Homo sapiens: one gene and its partners. The protein of the gene in region 2 interacts with the protein of the main gene of each other region in a biochemical or structural test. Each region holds a gene or a part of one and is shown on either strand. Other genes may lie near its edges. The genes, in order: PAN3, PABPC1, TOB1 and GSPT2.

The links.
Region 1: the proteins of PABPC1 (region 2) and PAN3 form a complex in vitro, tested with the Homo sapiens proteins (4 studies listed by BioGRID and IntAct, with this or other methods).
Region 3: the proteins of PABPC1 (region 2) and TOB1 form a complex in vitro, tested with the Homo sapiens proteins (2 studies listed by BioGRID and IntAct, with this or other methods).
Region 4: the proteins of PABPC1 (region 2) and GSPT2 form a complex in vitro, tested with the Homo sapiens proteins (4 studies listed by BioGRID and IntAct, with this or other methods).

Annotation. Positions count from the first base shown.
Region 1 is NC_000013.11:28,134,074-28,141,555, reverse strand, and holds the start of PAN3 (PAN2-PAN3 deadenylation complex subunit PAN3), read right to left. Parts: upstream 3,012-7,482; 5' UTR 2,899-3,011; coding exon 2,469-2,898; exon of another isoform or gene 2,382-2,468; intron 1-2,381. UniProt on the Homo sapiens protein: Regulatory subunit of the poly(A)-nuclease (PAN) deadenylation complex, one of two cytoplasmic mRNA deadenylases involved in general and miRNA-mediated mRNA turnover.
Region 2 is NC_000008.11:100,702,386-100,705,106, forward strand, and holds the end of PABPC1 (polyadenylate-binding protein 1), read right to left. Parts: intron 2,672-2,721; coding exon 2,541-2,671; intron 2,006-2,540; coding exon 1,913-2,005; 3' UTR 1,912-1,912; exon of another isoform or gene 975-1,911; 3' UTR 531-974; downstream 1-530. UniProt on the Homo sapiens protein: Binds the poly(A) tail of mRNA, including that of its own transcript, and regulates processes of mRNA metabolism such as pre-mRNA splicing and mRNA stability.
Region 3 is NC_000017.11:50,863,355-50,870,430, reverse strand, and holds the start of TOB1 (protein Tob1), read left to right. Parts: upstream 1-4,076; 5' UTR 4,077-4,373; intron 4,374-6,267; 5' UTR 6,268-6,413; coding exon 6,414-7,076. UniProt on the Homo sapiens protein: Anti-proliferative protein; the function is mediated by association with deadenylase subunits of the CCR4-NOT complex. Mediates CPEB3-accelerated mRNA deadenylation by binding to CPEB3 and recruiting CNOT7 which leads to target mRNA deadenylation and decay.
Region 4 is NC_000023.11:51,738,932-51,746,482, forward strand, and holds GSPT2 (eukaryotic peptide chain release factor GTP-binding subunit ERF3B), read left to right. Parts: upstream 1-4,510; 5' UTR 4,511-4,695; coding exon 4,696-6,582; 3' UTR 6,583-7,301; downstream 7,302-7,551. UniProt on the Homo sapiens protein: GTPase component of the eRF1-eRF3-GTP ternary complex, a ternary complex that mediates translation termination in response to the termination codons UAA, UAG and UGA.

The DNA of each region.
Region 1 (7,482 bases), on a different chromosome or scaffold from region 2:
GCAGAGGTTGCGGTGAGCCGAGATCACTAGATTGCACTCCAGCCTCGTAAACAAGAGTGAAACTCCGTCTCAAAAAAAAAAAAAAAAAAAAAAGAAAAAAAGAAAAAGAAAATCCTAGAATGATCGTCAGAGCTGTCTGTCAGGAATAAGATTAATAGATAAATAAAACTTTAAAAGTTTTTTTTAAAAAGAGAATCCTAGAAAGATCACCTATGAAGTCTAACACCAGCATTTTAAAAAGTGCCTCTTTCTGGCCAGCACAGTGGCTCACACCTGTAATCCCAGCACTTTGGGAGGCCGAGGCGGGACGATCACCTGAGGTCAGGAGTTCGAGACCCACCTGGCCAACATGGCGAAACCCCGTCTCTACTAAAAATACAAAAATAAGCCGGTCGTGGTGGCGCATGCCTGTAAAACCCAGCTACTTGGGAGGCTGAGGCAGGAGAATTGCTTGAACCTGGGAGGTGGAGGTTGCTGTGAGCCGAGATCGCACCACTGCACTTCAGCCTGGACGACAAGCAAGCCTCCGTCTCAAAAAAAAAAAAAAAAAAAGTGTCTCTTTCTGTCAGTAAGAAAACTATTGTTCAGTGTCATTGGTTACTAATCAAACATTACTACTGAGTCACGACTCACACATCCAGCAAAACTTTAACCTGAAAATGCAAAGTTGATGCTCGAAAGTGATAAAATTCCACCCATAAGTAACCATTTGTTTTACAAAACATCTGAATTTACAAAATTAATTTTCTTAGCATTATCAGCCTTAGCAAATATATCTTCATTAAAGTCAAGCCCATCACAACAAATGAAACACTTCTATAAAAGAAAAAGAAAGAAGAGAGAAAGGAGAAAAGAACAGAACAGAACAACACTTGGCCCAGCATGGTGCCTCACTCCTGTAATCCCAGCACTTTGGGAGGCCCAGGCAGGAAGATCGCTTGAGCCCAGGAGTTCCAGGCCAGCTTGGGCAACATAGGAAGATCCCGTCTCGAAAGAAAAAGCAAGAAAGCAAAACCCCGGGGAAGATATTAAATAATCCTCATAGACCAATTAAATGCTAAAACTTCCTATCAGGTTCATTAACAGTGTTTAAGAAAAAGACAAAATGTTCTCATGTACAAATTGAACTGCCTATCAGATTATTTTAAGATCTAGTTCTCCAGAATTCCCAAGAAAGTAGGACTCCTATTTGGTTTAGAAACGCTCAATATACTAAGAAACAAAACAGGGACATCTGGCACCGGCTCTATTCGTAAAGGCAACATTCTCTAACAGATTACGCTCACATTCAATTGTAAACTCCACTAACAACTAACAAGCTTCAGGTCAATAGATAACAACACACTGAGAGGCTGAGGAGGACAGATCACTTGAGGCCAGCAGTTTGAGACCAGCCTGGCCAACACAACGAGACTACTATCTCAACTAAAACTACAAAAAATTATCTGGCCGTGGTGGCGCGCGCCTGTAGTCCCAGCTACTCCGTAGGCAGAGGCAACAGAATCGCTTGAACTCGGGAGGCGGAGGTTGCAGTGAGCTGAGATCGCGCAACTGCACTCCAGCCTGAGCGACAGGGCGAGACTCTCTCCAAAACAACAACAACAACAACAACAACAACACATGAAAAAGAAATATAAACAGCCTTAAGATGTCCCCACCCAAGTGCTCAGTCGCACATAAACGCAGGCTGCACATGACATGCATTCAAGACACAATGCTGAGTTTGCTTGATACAAAGCTATAGAAGACAGGATCCCAGCTGACACCAGCAAACTTATTCTAGCTTTCAGGGAAACTCAGATGAAATGCGTCTTTGTGAAATCCCTACTCTAAACTCTCGATTAAACCTGAGCACACTTTGAACGCGACAGTCCGCTCCCTCCTAATCCTTAGAAAGCATTTCCTGCCTGCAAAACCTTTCTCCCGCAAGCCTTCTACAAACTTTTTCCGTTCTTTCAACCTACTCCACGAAGCCTTAAGCCCGCCCCTCACCTCCCGCCCCCTACACACACACACACACACACACACACACACACACACAAACACACCCCTCCCCACTAGGGAACCTCAACACTCTGCAGACGCCACTCCACAAGGACACGCAAAACACATGTGCCTGCAAACCCAGCCCCTTTCCACACCCCCCGGAAACGACACCCCCTTTCTCACACTCCGCACGCCACAGCCCATCCCCCTTCCTCCCCGCCCCCCCTTCACATCACCCCAGTCCTCCCACCCACGTTCCCGGGAACCCAACCTCCCCGCGCTCTCCGACTTGCCGAAGGCAGTGGGGAGGGGAAGCAGGAAGAAGGAAGGAGGGCTCAGGCCCGGCCTAGGCCTCTCAGACCGCCTTGGGAGGTGAGGGGGGGAGCCCGCGGGCCGTGCTCAGCTCCCGTCGGCAGCAGGGCCTCATCCGGCCCAGGCCTGCCCTCCGCCGCCGCGGCCCGCCCCGCCCGAAAAACACTCACTTGCCAGCCGCGGTCCATCGAGTCCCCCGCTACTGCCTCCTCCGCCGGCTGCGGCTCCGGTCCCCGGGTCCCCCAGGTCCGGCTTCTTGGGCCCGGGGGGCGGCCCAGCTCCCCCGCCCGCGACGGCTCCCGGCGGAAAGCCGGCCACGGGTGCACCAGCCAGAGCCAGGGGGACGCTGTTGCTATGGAGGCCGAGGCCCGGGGCAGCCCCGGCGGCAGGGTCCTCATGCAGGAACTGACACTCCTCCCCGTAGAAGCAAGTCTTATCCTTAGCGTAGTAGCGGCAGTACTTCAGCTTCACTCCTACCGCCGCCCCGCCGGGGACACCCCCGACCCCCGGCGGGGCCACCACCGCCACCGCCGCCGCCAGCGAGGAGGAGGAAGGGGAGGCGGCGGCCGAGGGGGGCGGGAGGCCGCCGCCACTGTTCATGGCAACGCCGCAGCCTCGTCTTCCGCCGCCGCCCGAGGAGCCGCCGCCGCCACCACCATAGACGGGGGAGGAAAGGAAGACGCTGCCGGTGCCGGATAAAAGCCTGGGCGGGTGGGTCTGTCCCGCTGCGGGAGCCGGAGCCGCCCGGGGAGAAGGGGGAGGGGAGAGGGGAGGGAGGAGGGGGTAGAAGGAGGGAGGGTAGGGGGAGAGTTGGGATTCTCTCACTCACTCTCTCGTTCTCTTTTCTTAAAGGGGCCGCGCGGGACGACGGGGTGAGCGCGCGGGCCCAGACGGGGACTTCGAGGGCGCGGGCAGGGGAAGAGGGAGCGGCAGCGGCAAGCGGGTGGGGAAGGCGGAGGGGCCGGTTTATTTTTAAATTCTGCCTCCACTCGCTCTCTCGCGCTCTGGTTCCTCCGAGTTGTTTATTCCATTTTCCTCTTCCTGAGACGGCCGTCGCCGCTGCGCGTGCGCGCTGAGACGCGAGGGCTTATGGGTAGCGGGAGCGCTAGGGGAAGCCTGGCCGGCGTCGGGCCCCCGGGGGCATCCGCGAGCTATCGGCGGTTGGACCGGCGGCTCTCGGTGGGGTTCCGGACGCGGATCTGGCGCCGAATTCTCACGAGACCTGATACCTTCCTTATTTGTATATTCTCTTACTTAAAAAGCCAGATGTCTTTTTTTTTTTTTTCATTGAAAAGAGAAAATTGACAAGGTAAACGGTCGTTTGGAGGGGCCACCTGGGGACGCGGCCCGAGCCCTGGCTCTACCTGAAGAATATCTTCTATTTGCCACACTTCCTCTCCCCGTTTCCTTTCTTCGCCCCTCTCCTCTTTCCCCTTCCCCTCGAAGGTAATGAGAACTACTGGACCGATTACGCTAACCTCTTGGCCCTTTGTCAAAAAATGGAGCCAAAAAGGTTGATTTAGACAGACCCCCTGCTCAGTGCAGCACCTGTTATTCTCTGTATTTATATTACCAAGGGCCTTCGGTAAATTATGAAAAATAGGATGCCACCTGGGACAACACTGCTTAGACAGCACTGGAAGACCTTTATAAATATACTAGGTTGCTTTTCTCCAATCAGCCTAGCCTTGATTTGAAATTCATTTTTATTTTTTTTGAGACGGTGAAATTCATTTTTAAAAGATAGTTTTAACCTCAGCGATCTCTGATGTTTGCGCTAATACCCTTTTAAAGGCTTTCAGAAATTTTAAAGAATTGCTATGAAAGGAAAAGTAACATTCTAGTTTTTCTCTGTAAAAGAGGTTCACAAACGGCAGATCGCTGTTATGAAAAGGAGGGGTGGAAGTATTTAAGGAATTGTGGCAAACAAAGTCACAGAAGAATGGATATAAGCAAAAGTAGCACACTGAAAAAAATGGGGAAAAGTGGAGTCTAGATCACAAACTGGTAAGCTTGGTGATGTTCTCTAGCCAAATTCGAAGGTAATAACATTGTATTATGGCTTTCTGTTTAAAAGCAGTTTCGCTTATTTGATTATTCAACAAATCTTTATTAACACGCATTACGTGTACCAGAAACTGTGGTACACTTAACTGTGGAGCTGGGGAAGCAAAAGTGAACATGCCGCCTTAAGTGAGTTCAGATGGCTTATCTTCCGGTTGGGGAGGCATCAAGTACACAGGTCCGTTGTAAACCAGTGTCTTAAGTGCTAACCTTATCACATTTGCTATTAGAGGATATTAAACATGTCAGACTTCTTGGAGAAAGTTGATATTTTCATGTTCCAAGTTTGGGAACATCATTGAATTCAGACAGATCTGGATTGAAACAGATTAAAGTGCCTACACTTTAATAGCTGTGTTCCTCTCAGTTAATTGCTTCATTTCTCTGTGCCTTGTCTGTACACCTGGATTAAGAATAGTACCTACTTCATAAAGTATAACTAATAATGTATATAAACTGTCCCATGCCTAATAAGAATTCGGTAGGTTGTAACTATTATTAATAGTATTGGCCAGGCGCAGTGGCTCACGCCTGTAATCCCAGCACTTTGGGAGGCCAAGGCGGGTGGATCACCTGAGATCAGGAGTTCGAGACCAGTCTGGCCAACCTGGTAAAACACCGTCTCTACAAAAATACAAAAAAATTACTGGGCGTGGTGGCGAGCGCCTGTGATCCCAGCTACTGGGGAGGCTGAGACATAAGAATCACTTGAACCTGGGAAGCAGAGGTTGCAGTGAGCCGAGATCTCGTCATTGCACGCCAGCCTGGGCGACAGAGCGAGACTCCATCTCGAAAAAAAAGTAGTATTGCTGCTAGTGGTAGTCAGTGTATAGTCAAAGAGCATTCTAGGCAAACAGCTTTTATTGTTAGAATACAGTGATAGTGGAAAATGGAGCAGAGTCCACAAAAGTCCTTGTAGGGCCATGTTAAAGAATTGAACTTTTGGCCAGGCGCAGTGGCTCACGCCTGTAATCCCAGCACTTTGGGAGGCTGAGGCGAGCAGATCACGAGGTCAGGAGTTCAAGACCAGCCTGGCCAACATGGTGAAACCCCCGTCTCTGCTAAAAATACAAAAATTAGCTGGGTGTGGTAGCAGGCACCTGTAATCTCACCTACTCGGGAGGCTGAGACAGAAGAATTGCTTGAACCCGGGAGGCAGAGGTTGCAGTGAGATCGCACCACTGCACTCTAGCCTGGGCGACAGAGCAAGGCTCCATCTCAAAAAAAAAAAAAAGAATTGAACTTTTTCTTGAGGACAATTGGAAGTTATTACAGGGTTTTTAAAAGTCAACATGGCAGGGCACAGTGGCTCACACCTCTAACCTCACTGCTTTGGAAGGAAGCCAAGGCAAGAGGATCACTTGAGGCCGGGAGTTCAAGACCCTCTTGGGAAAACTAGCAAGACCCTGTCTATACAAAACAATTTAAAAATTAGCCAGGTGTAGAGGCACTTGCCTATAGTCCTAGCTACTGGGGAGGCTGAGGCAGAGGATCATTTGGGCTCAGGAGTTCCAGGATGCAGTGAGCTTTGAAGGCGCCATTTTATGCCAACCTGCACAGCAGTGAGACCCTCTCGGTCAATAAATAAAAAATAAACTTATTTGCCACACATTTCATATCTCCACACTTTTTTAGGAGACAACTACTTATTCCTATAGTAGGGTTGTCTTTTTAAGCAGGGTTCATTGTTGAGTATTCCTTTACTAAAAATAAATATGTAGTCAACTCTAAGTTATTTTCATGTTAATGAAGATTACATCCAAAACTGCAAATAATCCATAAATTATTCATAAAATGTATACTTGACCTCCAACAGCATTTCCCCAGCAACAGAGACTACATTGCTAAAGGGTAATGTTAATTTCTATTAAATGCTAATAATTGAGGCCAAGCGCATTGGCTCACACCTGTAATCCTAGCACTTTGGGAGGCGGAAGTGGGTGGATCACTTGAGGTAAGGAGTTTGAGACCAGCCTGACCAACGTGGTGAAACCCCGTCTCTACCAAAAATACAGAAAATTAGCTAGGCATGGTGGCAGGCACCTGTAATCCCAGCTTCTCGGGAGGCTGAGGCAGGAGAATTGCTTGAACCTGGGAGGCGGAGGTTACAGTGAGCCGAGATTGCGCCATTGCATTCCAGCCTGGGCAACAGAGCGAGACTTCATCTCAAAATTAATAATAATAAAGATTGAGAGGAAAACGTCACATTTTCTGAATGGTTAATTATTATATTAGTGATAGCAGCCTGAGTCTTAAAAATTCTCCCTTAAGGACAAGCATGTGGCTCACACTTATAATCCTAACACTTTAGGAGGTCAAGGCAGGAGAATCACTTGGCTCAGAAGTTCTGAGACCAGCCTAGGCAACATAGGGAAACACTGTCTCTACAAAAAAATTTAGCTGGGCATGGTGGCATTCTGTGGTCACAGCTACTTGGGAGGCTTAGGTGGGAGGATTGCTTGGGCCAGGAGGTCGAGGCTGCAGTGACAGCCTAGGTGACAGCAACCCTGGTGTCACCTGGTGAAAAAAAGGTGACCCTGTCTCAAAAAAAAATAAAAATTATCCCTTAAGATAGAGTGGAAACTGCATGTGGATAAATGAGAGTTGACTGTTTTTGAGTCCTAGAAATGAAATTTGCTGCATATGTATAAATACATTTCTTACATATTTGTAAAGTATGTTCCTTATGCACTAAGCTCTATAATTTTATACAAAGTTACTAGCAACTGCTTAATTTAATCTTGTTGACAAATTTTGGGTGCACTAGAAGCAAAAACCTTCCTATTTGTGGCAGTGATAAATAACTGATACATGACAGATTTTTTGGCCAGGCGCAGTGACCCACGCCTGTAATCCCAGCATTTTGGGAGTCCAAGGTAGGCGAATCACTTGAGGCCAGGGTTCCAGAACAGCCAGGCCAACATGGTGAAACCCCATCTCTACTAAAAATACAAAAGTTAGCCAGACGTGGTGGTGCAAGTGCCTGGTGCAAGTGCCTATAATCCCAGCTACTCGGGAGGCTGAGGCACGAGAATCACTTGAACCTGGGAGGCAGAGGTTGCAGTGAGCCAAGATCGTGCTACTGCACTCCAGCCTGGGTGACAGAGCAAGACTACGTCT
Region 2 (2,721 bases):
AAATCATACCAAAGCCTATCTTATCTACATCCTCTTCAAGAGTAGCTATCATTGTTTTATATCATGTAAGGGTTTAAGCTAATAATCTCATAGCCTAGAAACCTCAATATAATCATCAACTGGCAGGCCAGGCATGGTGGCTTATGCAGGAATAAGCCTTATGCTTATGCTTGAGCCCAGGAATTCGAGACCAGCCTGGACAAAATAGGGAGACCCAACCTCTACCCGCAAAAAAAAAAACCCCATAAACTGGCTTATCTTCAAAAGTGGATGGGTGTCAGTCTTGTACATGAAATATTAAGATCATGTAACAAATACATGTAACAAATTGTTTCAATAATCCGTATGGAAACCTTAACTCATAAAATGCACTACAGGAATTGTCTTGTGCCTTTTACATAAAACCAATAGACCCCCTGAACTTAACAGTACATTTTTCATAAAAGATTCTTATGTCGGCTCAGCACCATTAAGATATTACCTATTTATGCATGGCAATTATAAAGACTTTGAAAAAAAGCAAATCCGTGCACTGTTTAAGGAATTTTTATTAAAGCAAGAATTTTATAATCCAAATTACGTTTCCTTGCTCAGTTATCAATTCTGTTACTTAAAACAGAACTGACATTCTGAGCTATTCCACAGTAAAGAATTACAAAATTAAAGAAAGGAATGCTTTAAATTTTTGTACTTTGCTGAAAATTCTTTTTCCCAGGGTCTATAAAACATTAATTTGTTTTTATATTTTACTATTTTTTTGTGTTTTTTTGTTTTTAAATCAATAAGTAATCTAGGACTAGCATTATGTTTGCTAGACCTGGCATTTGCTCGGTACATAAGGTTCAAAGTTTCCTTTCCTTTTTTTATTTATTTTATATTTTGCAATGTTTTTTTTCCATAATATTTAAGTTTTTCGATGTTTAGATATTTTTCTTCGGTGAAGCACAAGTTTCTTTTCATGGTCCCTGATCAATCTGTAAATGTTAAAAAAACAAATTAAGACCAGGACTATCACTTGTCAGTAGCAAATTAAAGCCCTTAGCCAAATGCAATGTGGTTGTTTTTATCCATAGTTTTACTGGAACACAGCCATACCTGTTCATTTGTATACATACTATCTATGGTTGTCTTGACATGGTAACACTGGAACAAGATCATTTCAGAGATAACACAGTCCTCAAAGCCCAAAATATTTCCTATCTGGCCCTTTACAAAAAACATTTGCCAATCCCTGGTCCTGATCCTGGCTGCACTACTCAATTTCTTGGGAGTGATGAAAGACAGTAGTAGAGACCCAAGGGCACCACCCAAAAAGGAAAGGTAAAACTATGAAAGCCAACCTGTGACAGGTCATTTTATATATATATTACTATACAAAATCTGGCAGGGCGCAGTGGCTCACGCCTGTAATTTCAAGACTTTGGGAGGCCGAGGTGGGCGGATCACTTGAGGTCAGAAGTTCCAGACCAGCCTGGCCAACATGGCAAAACCCCAAGTCTAGTAAAAATACAAAAATTAGCTGGGCACGGTGGCAGGCATGGGCCTGTTAATCCCAGCTGCTCGGGAGGCCGAGGCAGGAGAATTGCTTGAACCTGGGAGGTGGAGGTTGCAGTGAGCCGAGATCGCGTCAATGCACTCCAGGTTGGGCGACAGAACGAAACTCCATCTCAAAAAAAAAAAAAAAAAAAAACACCACCTGAAAGTCCTGGGATTTTAAAAATCCAACAGTTAACGGGTAAAATTCCTTTAATTCCTCTATAGTTAGTTCCACTTTTCCTTGAAAAATTAGCAATACATTTAAATGAACTGTAAAATGATCTTTTGCTATGTACATTTCAAAATATGCTCAACAAACTTTATAAAAGATGAAGAAAACAAGCTTAAAACAACAAACCAGAGGGAAAAGCTCACTTTAAACAGTTGGAACACCGGTGGCACTGTTAACTGCTTTCTGGGCAGCCTCTTTAGCTTGGTGGGCTTGTAGTACAGCTACAGCTTCATCAACCTAAAAAAGGGGAAAACAGATAAACTGGTTCAGGAAAGGAATGGAAATAAAGAGTTTCATAATGGTAACATACCAATTCCCAACAAAGATAAGTTTCTTCCCTCAAATGAAAGTATAAATTGTTACACTAAACAACTATATCCATTCAATTTTGAGTTCTATTACACCACTATTCTAGAATTATGAATCGCTCCCCTGCACTACTCTTTCCTTGTCCTCCCCACACTCGAAAAATATTTCTCTTTCTCCACTAGAGAAAGCAGCAGCAGTTGAGAGTATGGCTGTTGGAGCTGATGGGATTTGAAGCCAGGCTCTGCCACTTAAGAGCTGTGTGAGCATTTGGCAAATTATTCAGCCTGTTTCAGTTTACCTATCTATAAAATGGGGATAAATAGCGCCACAGGTTATTATGCAGACTTTACAACTGTACATGGCTTATATATAACACGATGTAAGTGTTCTGTACAATTAAGTCCCCATAAAAAGCCACGTAATAACTGTGTAAGAGGCAACTTGGTAAATAAATTTAAATCACCTTAGAACGGAGTGACTCTGGAGACTCGAGCATATGAAGAAGTTCTGAATTATCAATCTCCAACAACATGCCAGTGATTTTACCAGCAAGAGTAGGGTGCATGGCTTGAATAAGAGGAAACAGCCGTTCACCTAGGAACAGAAACATTCAAAAACTCCCTTCAATAAAAAAAAGTTTTTAA
Region 3 (7,076 bases), on a different chromosome or scaffold from region 2:
TGTAGTCCCAGCTACTTGGGAGGCTGAGGCAGGAGAATCACTTGAACCCGGAAGGCAGAGGTTGCAGTGAGCCAAGACTGTGCCACTGCACTCCAGCCTGGCGACAGAGTGAGACTCTGTCTCAAAAAAAAAAAAAAAAAAAAAAAAGAAGTAAAATGAGTATTAATAATTATACACCATGTGATAGCTATTCTCCTGTAACCCTTTCTCAATTTACAAGGAAGCATATTAAGAATTAGAAAACTTAGGATGTCTCTATCTCAGAAATCAAGGTGTTGCATGTGTGTGTTCTTGTGTGGATTAGGTAATAATTCAAGGCACTTTCAAGAACTGTATTTTATGAAGATATTGGAAGTTATTTTTTACCAAACGATTACCTTTATTGTAAGGGCCCACTGGGAATTGTGTAGAATGTAGGGATGTGAAAGGCAAAGGCTGTAGTTTCTAGTGACTGTTATTTGCTCAGAGAGAGGAATACCTCTTGATTGTGATACACTTGGAGCCTAATATCAAATTCTTTTTTCCTCCATAAGTCTAATTCCCTGCACAATTAGCAGTTAGCCCTCCACTCCCCTGCACAATTCCAAAGTAAATGTTAGATAATAATAAGCCATATGCAGAACTTGGATAAAGAACATTTTATACCTCGTGACTGGCAATGTTCAGAGATGTGAATCAGTTTTCCCTTTTATTTGCAATCCATATATATGTATTTTTTTTCTTTTTTGAAACGAAGTTTTGCTCCTGTTGCCTAGGCTGGAGTGCAATGGCGCGATCCCAGCTCACCGCAACCTCCGCCTCCCGGGTTCAAGTGATTCTCCTGCCTCAGCCTCCCGAGTAGCTGGGATTACAGGCATGCGCCACCATGCCAGGCTAATTTTGTATTTTTAGTAGAGACAGGGTTTCTCCATGTTGGTCAAGCTGATCTCGAGCTCCCGACCTCAGATGATCCACCCACCTTGGCCTCCCAAAGTACTGGGATTACAGGCGAGAGCCACCGCGCCCTGACTTGCAATCTGTATTTGAAGAACAGCTGCAGTATATATGTTAGGAACATTGAGTTTTAAGGGCGGAATATTTTATTTATTTATTTTTTTGAGAGAGAGTCTCGCTCTGTCGGCCAGCAGGAGTGCAGTGGCACGATCGCGGCGCACTGCAACCTCCATCTCCCAGGCTCAAGCAATTCTCCTGCCTCAGCCTCCCAAGTAGCTGGGATTACAGGCGTGTGCCACTACACCCGGCTAATTTTTGTATTTTCAGTAGAGACGGGGTTTCACCGTGTTGGCCAGGCTGGTCTCAAATTCCTGAGCTCAGGTAATCTGCCTGCCTCAGCCTCCCAAAGTGCTGGGATTACAGGCGTAAGCCACTGCTCCCAGCCAAGTGTGGAATTTTTTTTTAATTGAAGGAGACATTAGATATGATCTAATTCAACCCTTTTTATAGGTGAGAAAACTAAAAGTTTATTGAAACTGGTGTGAAACTCAGACCTCCCAGTACCCACCCTTCATTGCTTTTTCCAGTATGCCATGGGGCCTCCGTGTGTGTTGTTTGTGTGGTGTGTGTGTGTGTGTTTATATTTGGTCAGACATCTTCTTACACTCCTAGGCCAAGCAGCAATAACTCATAAATTTTTGACATCTACATTTCTGACTTAAAAATGCTTTTAATGCTACTGATATTTAATCAGTACCTATCAGATGACTGCTCTCATATTTCAAATCTGGAATTACAGATTGAAGACATTCAGAAAAGAGAACTTGTCCCTTCTCTTTAGAGAATTATTGAAAAGTACAGATAAGTTTGACAAAATTACAATTCATCTATCTTTAGACATTTTAGTCTCAGCCATGCCTAATATGCCCCCCCAATATAAAATTACTAATCAAGACACATGGTCCCGCAGTTCTAGATGTTTGGTACAGTACCATTATTTGCCTAATGGTAAAAGAAGTTGTGCTTCTAGAACACGTGAAAAATGAAGTGTTTCTTTTGGTAAGGCATTCCAAGGATATCCTGTCTAGTTTCTTGAAATTTCTGTGCTTAATTAGAAAACTAAAAATAACTCACTTTTATTACAGATGGACTTGTCATTACAGAAAACCAAAAACAAACAAATAAAAAAAGAAAACTGAACAAATCATTTATATTTGACGCTTTGATGACATTTCAATGCAGAGGAAGGGACATTTTAATTTAAATGCTTTCACAGTTTTGCCATACTTTCACATTTCAATTCCACTCCTGTTTGCAACTAAAAAACCCAAACACTCAAAAAAAAAAAAAAATCACATTAATCAGAATTTAAGGAGTCACTTAGTAAAACTATGTTTTAGGAATCTGTACAATAAACATGAAATCAGTCACCTGACCACTCCCCACCCTCAGCCCATTCCACAAACCCATCTTCCCACCCCTTCTCCTACGCATTGAGCCTTCAGAAATACCCTTTCTCAGTGCGGTTCCTTCTAAAAAGGAGAGGCGGGAGAGTCAGGGTGGAGAAGGCGGCTCCAACCAGATTTTGCGTCCACAAAGCCAAAAGCTTCTAGGCCTGGCATGTACGGCGGGTTTGTGCCCGAGGAGCACAGCTGGTCTACACGGGCCCGCCCCGTAGACACCCTACTCCTCGGTGAGCTGCGGTTTAACTTCCTTATAGCAGGTTGAGAGTGCAGGCCCCAACGTTTGGAGGGGAAGGCGGCGCCCCAACTGGTGTTTTTCCAGGAAGTGCTCCAAGAATGGAGAGGAGAGGGGAAAGGGGAAAGGGGAAGGCCAGGCGATGGGCGTTTCATTCATTGCTTCTTTCTCCCCGTCCCCTCCTTCGCTCCCCCCAGACTTTCCCCTTTTCCCAGTCCGAGTTTGACGTCGGTCTCCTGGATACCAGGCAGCCAATCGCCTCGTTGCGAAGGGACCAGCGCAGCCAATCAGGCGTCGTTGCTACCTGTGAGTAATATTTTTAGCTGAGAGGGACGCTCGATTCCACTCCCGATGTAATTTCGTGTATTTCTCTGGGGCAGGTTGTGAAAAAGGCACTTACCCGCCCCCCACCACGAGTCCCTCTCTTACCCCACTCCCTAGGTACCCGCACATATTTCAGCCAAGAATGATCTTAAACGCGCTTTACAAGCAGGCACCGCGTTTATTCTGTGCACCTGCGATCCAGCAAGCCCTAGAAATGCACGCATGCGTGTGTGTGTAGACATGGACACAGATACATACGCAGTTTGGCCTCGTGTCGCCACACTCTGGGCACGGCGTGGGCTGGGACATTTGGAATAAACGGATCCGAGTCGCAGCCGGGGTCGCACCGGGAGGCCTGAGGCTGCGGAAGCAGTTAAACTGCCGGCGGGGCGGGAGCTGTGGCGGCCTCCCTTCCCCACCCCCAGCCCGGCTCCACGTCTTTGGGTTCTGCAGCTGCCACTCTCTGGGTGGCGGTTGGCCTAGGCCTTGGGGTGATTAATATTCAATTAATCGGGTGCACAAGTCCCGGTCACAGTTTGCCCTTTCTCTACCCCGCCCCTGGGGTGGGCTGGAGGCCGATTTGGTAGCTATTCCACGAGCAGGATCCTCCTTGGCCGCAGACCCCCGCGGAGAGGGCACTTTCTGGGTACTCTTGCCGCTCCTCCAGCCCCGGTTCTCCTGAGCCGCTTCGCCACCAGCTTCGTCCCCCTCCCCCTCTGCCCGGCGCTCTCCGCCTAAACCGGGCGTCAGCCGCCCTACCCCACCCCTTTCTCTCTCATTGGCACGTCTGCCCCCACAGTCCCTTTCCAGACGTTCTCTTCATTCCGTCCCCAGTGCTCCGATCGTCGGTTCATTGGCCCTCCTGGAGCCCGGAGGGTGCGGCTTCCCCACCCCTGCGTCCGCCGCGCGTCCGGACAGGGGCAGGCGGGACTTGGCCAATGGCGTCGGGGGGCAGGGCAGGGGCGGAGCCGGCCGGCGGGGGACCGGGGTGCCGGGCGGGGAGCGCGGGGAATGGCTGCGCCGCCGGAGCTGTGTGACGCGGAGCGGGCGCGCGCACCCCGACGGAGGGGATGGGGGCGGGGAGGAGGCCATAAAACGAGAGGCGGGGCGCGCGCCGCGGCAGAAGGAGCGAAGCTCTGGCCCGGCGTGTAGCGGGCGCACTACGGGGACGCTGGGCCGGGCACCGGGCTGTGTGGAGAAGTGAGCGCGCTCGTCTGACCCCCGTGCCCGCCACCCCGAGCCACTAACGGCGATCTCCCAAGGCCTGCCCGAGGCCTCTGTCCTCTGTCCTCAGCCCCGCAGCGGCAACGTCTTGCACTCGGCGAGCTCGCCGCTCCCGACCCTCCCGCGCCCCCGCCCTGCCGCGCTGCTCCCCGCCCAGCCGCGGGTCTGTGGTCCAAGCCGCCCCGAAGCAGCCCGTAAGTATCTCGGGGCGCCGGGCGGGGTCGGCGAGGAGACGGGAGCCCCGGGCCCAGGCGGCGGAGGAGGGGCTGCAGCGGCGTCGAGCCCTGGGCCCTCGGGAGCTCGGGGACGGCGGGGTCGCGGCCCTGGGCGCCGAGGGGGCAGCGCCAGGACCCGAGGGGAGCGGCTCCGAGGGGCCGCCGGCGCGTCGGGCTCGTCCTGGGCAGTTGGCCGGGGACGGGCGGCCCGGGGCGAGCTGACGGGAATTGGGGGGTTGGGGTGCCCGGAGGAGCGACGAGCTCGCGGTGGAACGCTGGGGTTCGAGGGGCCGGTGGCCGCGAGGCTGAAAATGGTGCCGAGGAACCGGTGCTCCCCCAGGCTCTGGCCGGCTCCCAGGAGCCCGGGGCGGGGGCCACGGGGCGGGGAGCAGCGGGTCGGGTTACGGCGGGGGAGGGGAGCGGCTGACCCGGCGCCCCGACCTGCTCGGTGCTGGGTGCCCAGCCGGGAGAGGTTGCTCTTCCATTTCCCGGGCCTTCCTCCTCCTTCTCCGAGGAGGCTCGTACTCTCTTCCTCCTCCACCTCCACCTCCTCTTGCTGTTGCTGCTGCTGTAGCGCTTGGGCTCCGAGGGCTGTGAGCAGAAATCTAATGAGATCTAACTGGCTGTTTATGTAATTCTTCACACTCCTGCCTGTCTTAAGGCGTTGCTTTGTAACTACCTTCCACCGAGCCTGAATTTCGCTCGGCTGCACCTTCAAGCAATTGGGCTTAATCAGCTGCCTCTGCCGGCACTCAGGCTTTTGACTTGGAAAGTGTTTGTAGTTTGGGGGCAGCCAGAGATTCTTTTTCCCTTTGTCACCACGAATATGGAAAATAGAACAGACGAATTAAGACCAACTTGATTTTTAAACGTACTTTTAAATCAACTTCAGTGTGCAAATAGATCCCTTTCGCAAATATCTTCTGTTTGCCCTTGATCTTTTCTTATCCCCACCCAGTGCTGATCCAGCAAACGTTTAAAGGTCGACCTTACCATACTTGCCTCTCCGGCTGTTACCGTGAGAGGGAGGGAGGGAGAGAGGGACAGACGGAGGTTTTTTAAAATCAGACTAAAACTCAGAAACCCTGGCCTTAAACAGAATAATCAATAGTTTTAATTTGTGTCTTTGCTTTTGTTATACTTGCTGCCGAATAGGTATTTTCAGATTTAGAAAAATACACATTGAAAACAAAAGGCCCAGAGAAGCTGGATTTTATTATATTGTATGCTCTTAGTATACTTAAGGCCGAAACTATATAGAATAATTTGGTTCATAATTATTTACTAGGATGAAGTTCATTTAGTACTCAGTGTCTTTAATTTTAGCATCATGTACTATGGAAATTAAAATGATCTTCCTAACGTAACCAAATTTTTAAATGTCAGTGACAGAGCAGATTTAAACAGTATATATCCAAAGTAAACTAAAACATGGATTCACTTCTAAGTTGGTGAATAACAATAAAAATTACTACCTAAAAGTGGCATCTATATATATGGGGGTGGGGGGAGGATGCTGAGTACAATAAATATTCTTGTGAGAACTGAGGAGAGAAGAATGCATGTTCTAGAGATTTTTCTTCTTAGAACTCTATTCAGAAACAGGTTTTTAAAAGCATTATTTCATTTGTAAATCTACATTTTCCTGTGTCATTTTAAACTTTAATAAACGATTTTCTATTTTATGTTTATTTTGTGCTAGTAACAGTTTTCAGGCTTTCTGTCCTAGTAGACATTTTCTTTTTCTTTTTATCCTTAGCAGACTAACACAGGATCTTAGACATTTTGAAAGGTGAAATTACTTTGGAGGGGGGAAGGTCATGGGACTTATATTACATTTATCTTATTTGGATATGTTTGCTTTTGTTTTAAGGAACAAGATCACTCAAGGTGAAGGATAATCTACTAATACCAGCACTTTGAATGAAAATTTGTTTCTCTGCCACAAACTGAACATCTTTTTTTTTTTTTTTTTTTTTTGGTGGGGGAGTTGAAACCTAATTTTGTGGCGTAGCAGCTATGCAGCTTGAAATCCAAGTAGCACTAAATTTTATTATTTCGTATTTGTACAATAAGCTTCCCAGGAGACGTGTCAACATTTTTGGTGAAGAACTTGAAAGACTTCTTAAGAAGAAATATGAAGGGCACTGGTATCCTGAAAAGCCATACAAAGGATCGGGGTTTAGATGTATACACATAGGGGAGAAAGTGGACCCAGTGATTGAACAAGCATCCAAAGAGAGTGGTTTGGACATTGATGATGTTCGTGGCAATCTGCCACAGGATCTTAGTGTTTGGATCGACCCATTTGAGGTTTCTTACCAAATTGGTGAAAAGGGACCAGTGAAGGTGCTTTACGTGGATGATAATAATGAAAATGGATGTGAGTTGGATAAGGAGATCAAAAACAGCTTTAACCCAGAGGCCCAGGTTTTTATGCCCATAAGTGACCCAGCCTCATCAGTGTCCAGCTCTCCATCGCCTCCTTTTGGTCACTCTGCTGCTGTAAGCCCTACCTTCATGCCCCGGTCCACTCAGCCTTTAACCTTTACCACTGCCACTTTTGCTGCCACCAAGTTCGGCTCTACCAAAATGAAGAATAGTGGCCGTAGCAACAAGGTTGCACGTACTTCTCCCATCAACCTCGGCTTGAATGTGAATGACCTCTTGAAGCAGAAAGCC
Region 4 (7,551 bases), on a different chromosome or scaffold from region 2:
GAGGCTTAAGCTTTCTAGCCATCTCAGCACAGAGAAGCTTATTTGTGAATGGGGCTGGAACATACGCCAAGAGAACCAATATAAGGCACAGTGTTCTTAACTCTATGTTCACTAGCTCCTCAATATTTTTCTGTTCTCCTCCTTTCAGCCTACCATACACCACTGTTACCTAAACCTGGATGAAACTTAAGACTCTGCTTGTGCCCCAAGTTGCTCAGTGATGCTAGATGTAAGATGGGGAAAGAGAGGAATCTCAAAACCTAAACATATTATGTCCTCCAGTCTAGTGCTGTTTTGGTTTACCTAAATTCTTTAAAAAATAATTTTATTACTCCCAAATCAGCCACCTCCCCCATACCATAAGGGCCTATTATAAATCTTCCCCTATTCATCATTTTTCTTATTTTAGTCTTCCTTCACAATTTCCAGTCTCCTACTTCAGGAAAGAAACACAAATCCTCATGAAAGAACTACAGTGAATTATCCTTTCTCTCTTAAATTTATTATATTTCCATTCTTTCCAGATAATCTAAGATTTAACCTTCTTCCTCTATTTGTGATTTAACTCTGCCAAATCTCCCTATTCCTTTCTTTATATATATATATAATAGATGATACAAGCCAGTGTGGTCTTAGAATCATATTGTCTGTGTTTGAACTCCAAGTCCGCTATTTACTAGCTATGTGACGTTGAGTAATCCCTGGCCTCTCTGAATGTTATTTTCTTATCTGTAAAACAGTGATAAGATTACCTTCTTCAAAGGATGATAGGGAAAATTAAATGAGAGAATCCATATAAAATAATTGAAATATGATCTACGCTTAGGAAGCACTCAATAAAATTGACTATCAGATAGATACAATTCAACTATGAAATACAGGCAGAGAATAGAGAGAGCATTTATGCAAAGAAAAAATCTGTTTATTTTAAATCATATTGATGGTGGTGGTACTGAGACAACTATATGTGTAGGTGGGATAAATCAAATGAGTAATTATTTTATTTTCTAATTCTATCTATCTTTCCATGTTATCATTGAGAACCAGTATTCCTGGTTTGGCAAACATTTGTATAATTGGTCTGGTACATCTTGTCAAACCATATAATAAATAAACCATCAAGGACTACTAGCATAGTCTCAAAAGTGTTCAGAACTCAACCAGAAGAGGCACTGGCAAATGATCATCAATAAGTATAGTAAGCAAAATTTATCAAAATGCCTCAAATATATGTAAATCCAATAATTCACAATTATCCCTTTTAAAATCCTTATTTGTCATGTGTGTAGGATTCTAGGGAACCAACTCATTATTTTTTAAAGCTCCTAAATAACACGAAAGAATCAAGCACTTTTCCTGCATTTCCTTTGCAATCTATATCTGAAAGTAACAAAACTGTTGAAGGTAAATTTTTTGGAACAGCACTCCAGTTAATAAAAACAGAAAGAATGACAGAAGTGCAATATCACAATTTTGCAACCTCTAATGATATGTCTCTAAACAAGTATCAATAATTGTGGCTAACTGTAAAAAGAGTCACAACCCGACCTCATGTGCCTCTTGATGGAAATAATCAAAATTCCCTTGAAGTATTCTTGTTAAAAAATTGCACCTGAATCTGATCAAGCTCATAGATTTAATTATTGATAAACAGGAAATACAGAGAACAAAGGAATATTCTAAACTCTACCATAGACATACAGTCAGCAAAGCTGAGAATGTAAAAAAACAAAAAAACAAACAAAAAAACCTCTCTACCAGTCACATCATCCACTTTCCTCAATAAATAAATGACATGAAAAAGGGGAAGATAGGTTGGGTATCCAGAGATAAAAAAGACTTAAAAGAAATATCAAAAAAGCAGGCCAAATTGAACTGTAGTGTCTGAGTGTACACATTTGTGTAATAAAACTATACGGAAAATCGTATAGGTTATTACCATAAATGTCACAATAGCAGTTACATTGAGAGGTGGAGGAAGTCATTTGTGATTGAACAGGGCACAAGGAAGCCTTCTGGGCTGGCTGGCAAATTTCTCTTGACTTGGATGGTTGTTACAAGTGTGTTTCCTTTCTCATAAGTCAATAACCTATAATTTTTAATGTGACTTTCTGTGTTTGTGCTATATTTTACAATAAAAAAGATTTTTAAAGGAGGAAAAAGATTGAATTAAGCAATGGTTGGATATCACCTACACTCTTTTTTAAATTTTCCTCTTTGGTGAGGAAAATTCTCTCATTTACTGATGAACTCTTAGGCAGAAAGACTGGAGACAAGCATCCCATCACACAAACCAAAAGATTTTTGTCCAAGGCCAATCTCTCTGGACACAATCTGGTCAGTGCTTCTCTCTCTTGCGTTGAACTGCCTCCCCTGGAACCTCATGAATGATGGATTATGAGGACATTCACAGACTATTTCTGACTTCTCCTTTATCGTTCTAACAGTGAAGTATCCTCTGTTCTCTGAGATATCACTAAGTAGCAGTCATACCAATATGTTCATGACCAATGCATTCGACCCAGGTGAAGGAAAAATCCCAGATGTCTCCTGCTTCCTTGCATGAATTACCTTATGTGAACACGGCTGCCAAAACCTTGACAGGTTCTCCCAGAAATGTCCATTCTAGGTTCACACAATGTCCAAGAAGGCTCCAGCACTTGTGTGGAGGGTCTCTCTGCACATTCTACCTCTCAGTTCTTCCTGTTTATTGTGAATAGGTGTGCACATTCTCTTTATGTCACTGTAAATAATTAATCCATAACCGGAGGCAAAAAGAATGAAGGTGTGGAAACAGTACAGAGCTAGTATAATAGTGGCAGCCCCAGAGTGAAAACATCAAGGGTCCAAGTCTGTCTTTTTTCCTACCCCTAAAGTCTGGAGAACACAATTCTCAAGTTATAATCAGGTACTTGGTTTTATAATATTTTGCTTTGTTGTTGGATTTAAATATCCAACTATGAGGCCAGGCGTGGTGGCTCATGCCTGTAATCCCAGCACTTTGGGAGGCCGAGGCAGGTGGATCACCTGAGGTCAGGAGTTCAAGACCAGTCTGGCCAACATGGTGAAACCCTGTCTCTACTAAAAATATATATTAAGAAAAATTAGCTGAGCTTGGTGGCGGACGCCTGTAATCCCAGCTACTCAGGAAGCTGAGGCAGGAGAATTGCTTGAACCCAGGAGGCAGAAGTTGCAGTGAGCTGAGATCATGCCACTGCACTCCAGCCTGGGCAACAAAAGTGAAACTTTGTCTCAAAATAAAAAAATAAATCCATCTATGTGACACCATCTTGTACTAAGCAGATTGTTTGGACTGAATAGTCTTTCTAGGTATGTCACAAAACCTGAATTCATAAAAGCAAAAGGTGACAGATTTGAGTACATGAAGACTAAAAACAGATTCAGAGAATAAGTTTGTATTTTCTATGTCAGTTTGCACTAAATTAATTTACAAACAAGGTCGCTGAGGCTTTGACTCAACTGTTAACACTTTCTGAGAGTGAGATTCTTTTGATTAGGGTCTTAAGGTCTTTGTTCATCTCAGAAGTCTTAATTGGTTTAATTAGGCTGACACCTACAGCCCTGTCTCATTACCATAAACTGTAGAGGGGTTCAACATGACACTGATTGTTTCTTAGAGCAAAGCCAGTGCAGTGAGTAGGATTCCAGGCCCCCCGGAATGAAGCAGGAAAACCCGAGGCCTGTGGATGCAGGATGTACTAGGGAGGTGCTGGGGAGTAGTGCAGATAAACCCAGAATTCAGTTGGTTGGTAAAACAAGAGTGATCTGAGTCCTGTGCTTGTCTACGTGATCCACCATTGAATGGCAGGCCAGCCATTGTGCAGGCATCTGCATATGAAGTGACTGGAAGCTTCACTGGAACAAGGATCTCCTTGGAAATTCTCTCCCCTCAGACAGCCAGGGTGCTTAACATGAAAAGAAGTTGTAACCCTATCCTTAAACTATAGAAGCCATCAGCAGAAGTTACAGGCTTATGGGGGCCCACTGGAAAGGGAAAATCAAAAGGCCTGTGGATTTCAAATTAATGAGTGATCTTAAGTTGCATTTCCTAAGTTCGGCTACAGACTCATATATTTCATGAGTCCCTCCCTACCCATTCCTTGCCTCTCCCTTCAGTTGCTGGGTTTCTGAATTTCTGTATAGTTAACCCTTATCTTGCCTCCCATTTGTTCAATAGAAATGATCACTTTTACTTGAATCTTTTGGTAGAATTGTATACCATGTGTTCCTGTCTAGGTTTAATCATCAGATTGTGGTCAAATTGCTCTGCCAGACTGTGTGAACAAAAAAGTGAATGGAAATTTTCGTTTTAAAAAATAATACTTTTGGACTTAGCCCGTGGCTAAGAAGAAGTAAGGAAGCCAAGCGTACGGATAGCAGCGAGGGGTCAATCCACGCCCGGCGTTGGGTCGGGGGTGGAGGAGTCGGAAGTGGTTGGGGTTTGGGGGAGGAGATCCGCTCACACACAAGAGGAGAGTGTTGAGCCGCCATATCTGCTGCTGCCGCCGCAGTTGCGAATGCAGCATCGGCGCTTAGCTGCCTCCGCGGTGCAGCTAAGGTTCGTGTCGCTACCCCTTGGCCCTTCGCTCTTGCTGCCTTAACCCCGCCGGCGGAGCCCGCTCTTCTGGCCTGTTGAGCCCGCTCCCTCACTGCCACACAGCAAGTTCCGAGACCATGGATTCGGGCAGCAGCAGCAGCGACTCGGCGCCCGATTGCTGGGACCAGGTGGACATGGAATCCCCGGGGTCGGCCCCGAGCGGGGATGGAGTCTCCTCTGCGGTGGCCGAGGCCCAGCGCGAGCCCCTCAGCTCGGCTTTCAGCCGTAAGCTCAACGTCAACGCCAAGCCCTTCGTGCCTAACGTACACGCCGCGGAGTTCGTGCCGTCCTTCCTGCGGGGCCCGACTCAGCCGCCCACCCTCCCGGCCGGCTCCGGCAGCAACGATGAAACCTGCACCGGCGCGGGATACCCTCAAGGTAAAAGGATGGGACGGGGGGCACCTGTGGAACCTTCCCGAGAGGAACCGTTAGTGTCGCTTGAAGGTTCCAATTCAGCCGTTACCATGGAACTTTCAGAACCTGTTGTAGAAAATGGAGAGGTGGAAATGGCCCTAGAAGAATCATGGGAGCACAGTAAAGAAGTAAGTGAAGCCGAGCCTGGGGGTGGTTCCTCGGGAGATTCAGGGCCCCCAGAAGAAAGTGGCCAGGAAATGATGGAGGAAAAAGAGGAAATAAGAAAATCCAAATCTGTGATCGTACCCTCAGGTGCACCTAAGAAAGAACACGTAAATGTAGTATTCATTGGCCATGTAGACGCTGGCAAGTCAACCATCGGAGGACAGATAATGTTTTTGACTGGAATGGTTGACAAAAGAACACTGGAGAAATATGAAAGAGAAGCTAAGGAAAAAAACAGAGAAACCTGGTATTTGTCCTGGGCCTTAGATACAAATCAGGAGGAACGAGACAAGGGTAAAACAGTCGAAGTGGGTCGTGCCTATTTTGAAACAGAAAGGAAACATTTCACAATTTTAGATGCCCCTGGCCACAAGAGTTTTGTCCCAAATATGATTGGTGGTGCTTCTCAAGCTGATTTGGCTGTGCTGGTCATCTCTGCCAGGAAAGGAGAGTTTGAAACTGGATTTGAAAAAGGTGGACAGACAAGAGAACATGCGATGTTGGCAAAAACGGCAGGGGTAAAACATTTAATAGTGCTTATTAATAAGATGGATGATCCCACAGTAAATTGGAGCATCGAGAGATATGAAGAATGTAAAGAAAAACTGGTGCCCTTTTTGAAAAAAGTAGGCTTCAGTCCAAAAAAGGACATTCACTTTATGCCCTGCTCAGGACTGACCGGAGCAAATATTAAAGAGCAGTCAGATTTCTGCCCTTGGTACACTGGATTACCATTTATTCCGTATTTGGATAACTTGCCAAACTTCAACAGATCAATTGATGGACCAATAAGACTGCCAATTGTGGATAAGTACAAAGATATGGGCACTGTGGTCCTGGGAAAGCTGGAATCCGGGTCCATTTTTAAAGGCCAGCAGCTCGTGATGATGCCAAACAAGCACAATGTAGAAGTTCTTGGAATACTTTCTGATGATACTGAAACTGATTTTGTAGCCCCAGGTGAAAACCTCAAAATCAGACTGAAGGGAATTGAAGAAGAAGAGATTCTTCCAGGATTCATACTTTGTGATCCTAGTAACCTCTGCCATTCTGGACGCACGTTTGATGTTCAGATAGTGATTATTGAGCACAAATCCATCATCTGCCCAGGTTATAATGCGGTGCTGCACATTCATACTTGTATTGAGGAAGTTGAGATAACAGCGTTAATCTCCTTGGTAGACAAAAAATCAGGAGAAAAAAGTAAGACACGACCCCGCTTCGTGAAACAAGATCAAGTATGCATTGCTCGTTTAAGGACAGCAGGAACCATCTGCCTCGAGACGTTCAAAGATTTTCCTCAGATGGGTCGTTTTACTTTAAGAGATGAGGGTAAGACCATTGCAATTGGAAAAGTTCTGAAATTGGTCCCAGAGAAGGACTAAGCAATTTTCTTGATGCCTCTGCAAGATACTGTGAGGAGAATTGACAGCAAAAGTTCACCACCTACTCTTATTTACTGCCCATTGATTGACTTTTCTTCATATTTTGCAAAGAGAAATTTCACAGCAAAAATTCATGTTTTGTCAGCTTTCTCATGTTGAGATCTGTTATGTCACTGATGAATTTACCCTCAAGTTTCCTTCCTCTGTACCACTCTGCTTCCTTGGACAATATCAGTAATAGCTTTGTAAGTGATGTGGACGTAATTGCCTACAGTAATGAAAAATTAATGTACTTTAATTTTTCATTTTCTTTTAGGATATTTAGACCACCCTTGTTCCACGCAAACCAGAGTGTGTCAGTGTTTGTGTGTGTGTTAAAATGATAACTAACATGTGAATAAAATACTCCATTTGAAACTCTTCGGTTATTTGAAATGCTTTTGAATAATGTTTAAATGTCATTATGTAATGCTATTCAATTAGCTTTATTACTTTCTCAAATAGTTGAATATGTTCTATCACTTAAAAACTTAAAAACTCTTCACCACTTACTGTTTTAAGTGAGGAATTTACAAACAATGCATAAGTGTGTATTAAAGGAATAATTTTAATTTTGAGAAAAAAACGTATGTTAAGGCTCTTCCCAGTGGGCTTTGTTTTCTCTGTCCAAGTCCAGTCAATAAAGGAGCTCTTCTGCTTCCCCACTTGTGATTTGAAAATGAAAGGCTCAGGCCGTCTTTATTTGTATAGCAGTAGTTCATGTAACATTATCCATAGGTTCTTGAAGACTACAACATTAAGCAAAACAATGTACAGCAGGTGTACATCGTACAACAATGCACAATGTATGACATTGTTCAATGTTGTTATGACATTGTTCAATGTTGTTATGACATTGTTCAATGTTGTTATGACCTTGTTCAATGTTGTTTAGTTATGACATTGTTCAATGTTGTTTAGTTATGACAT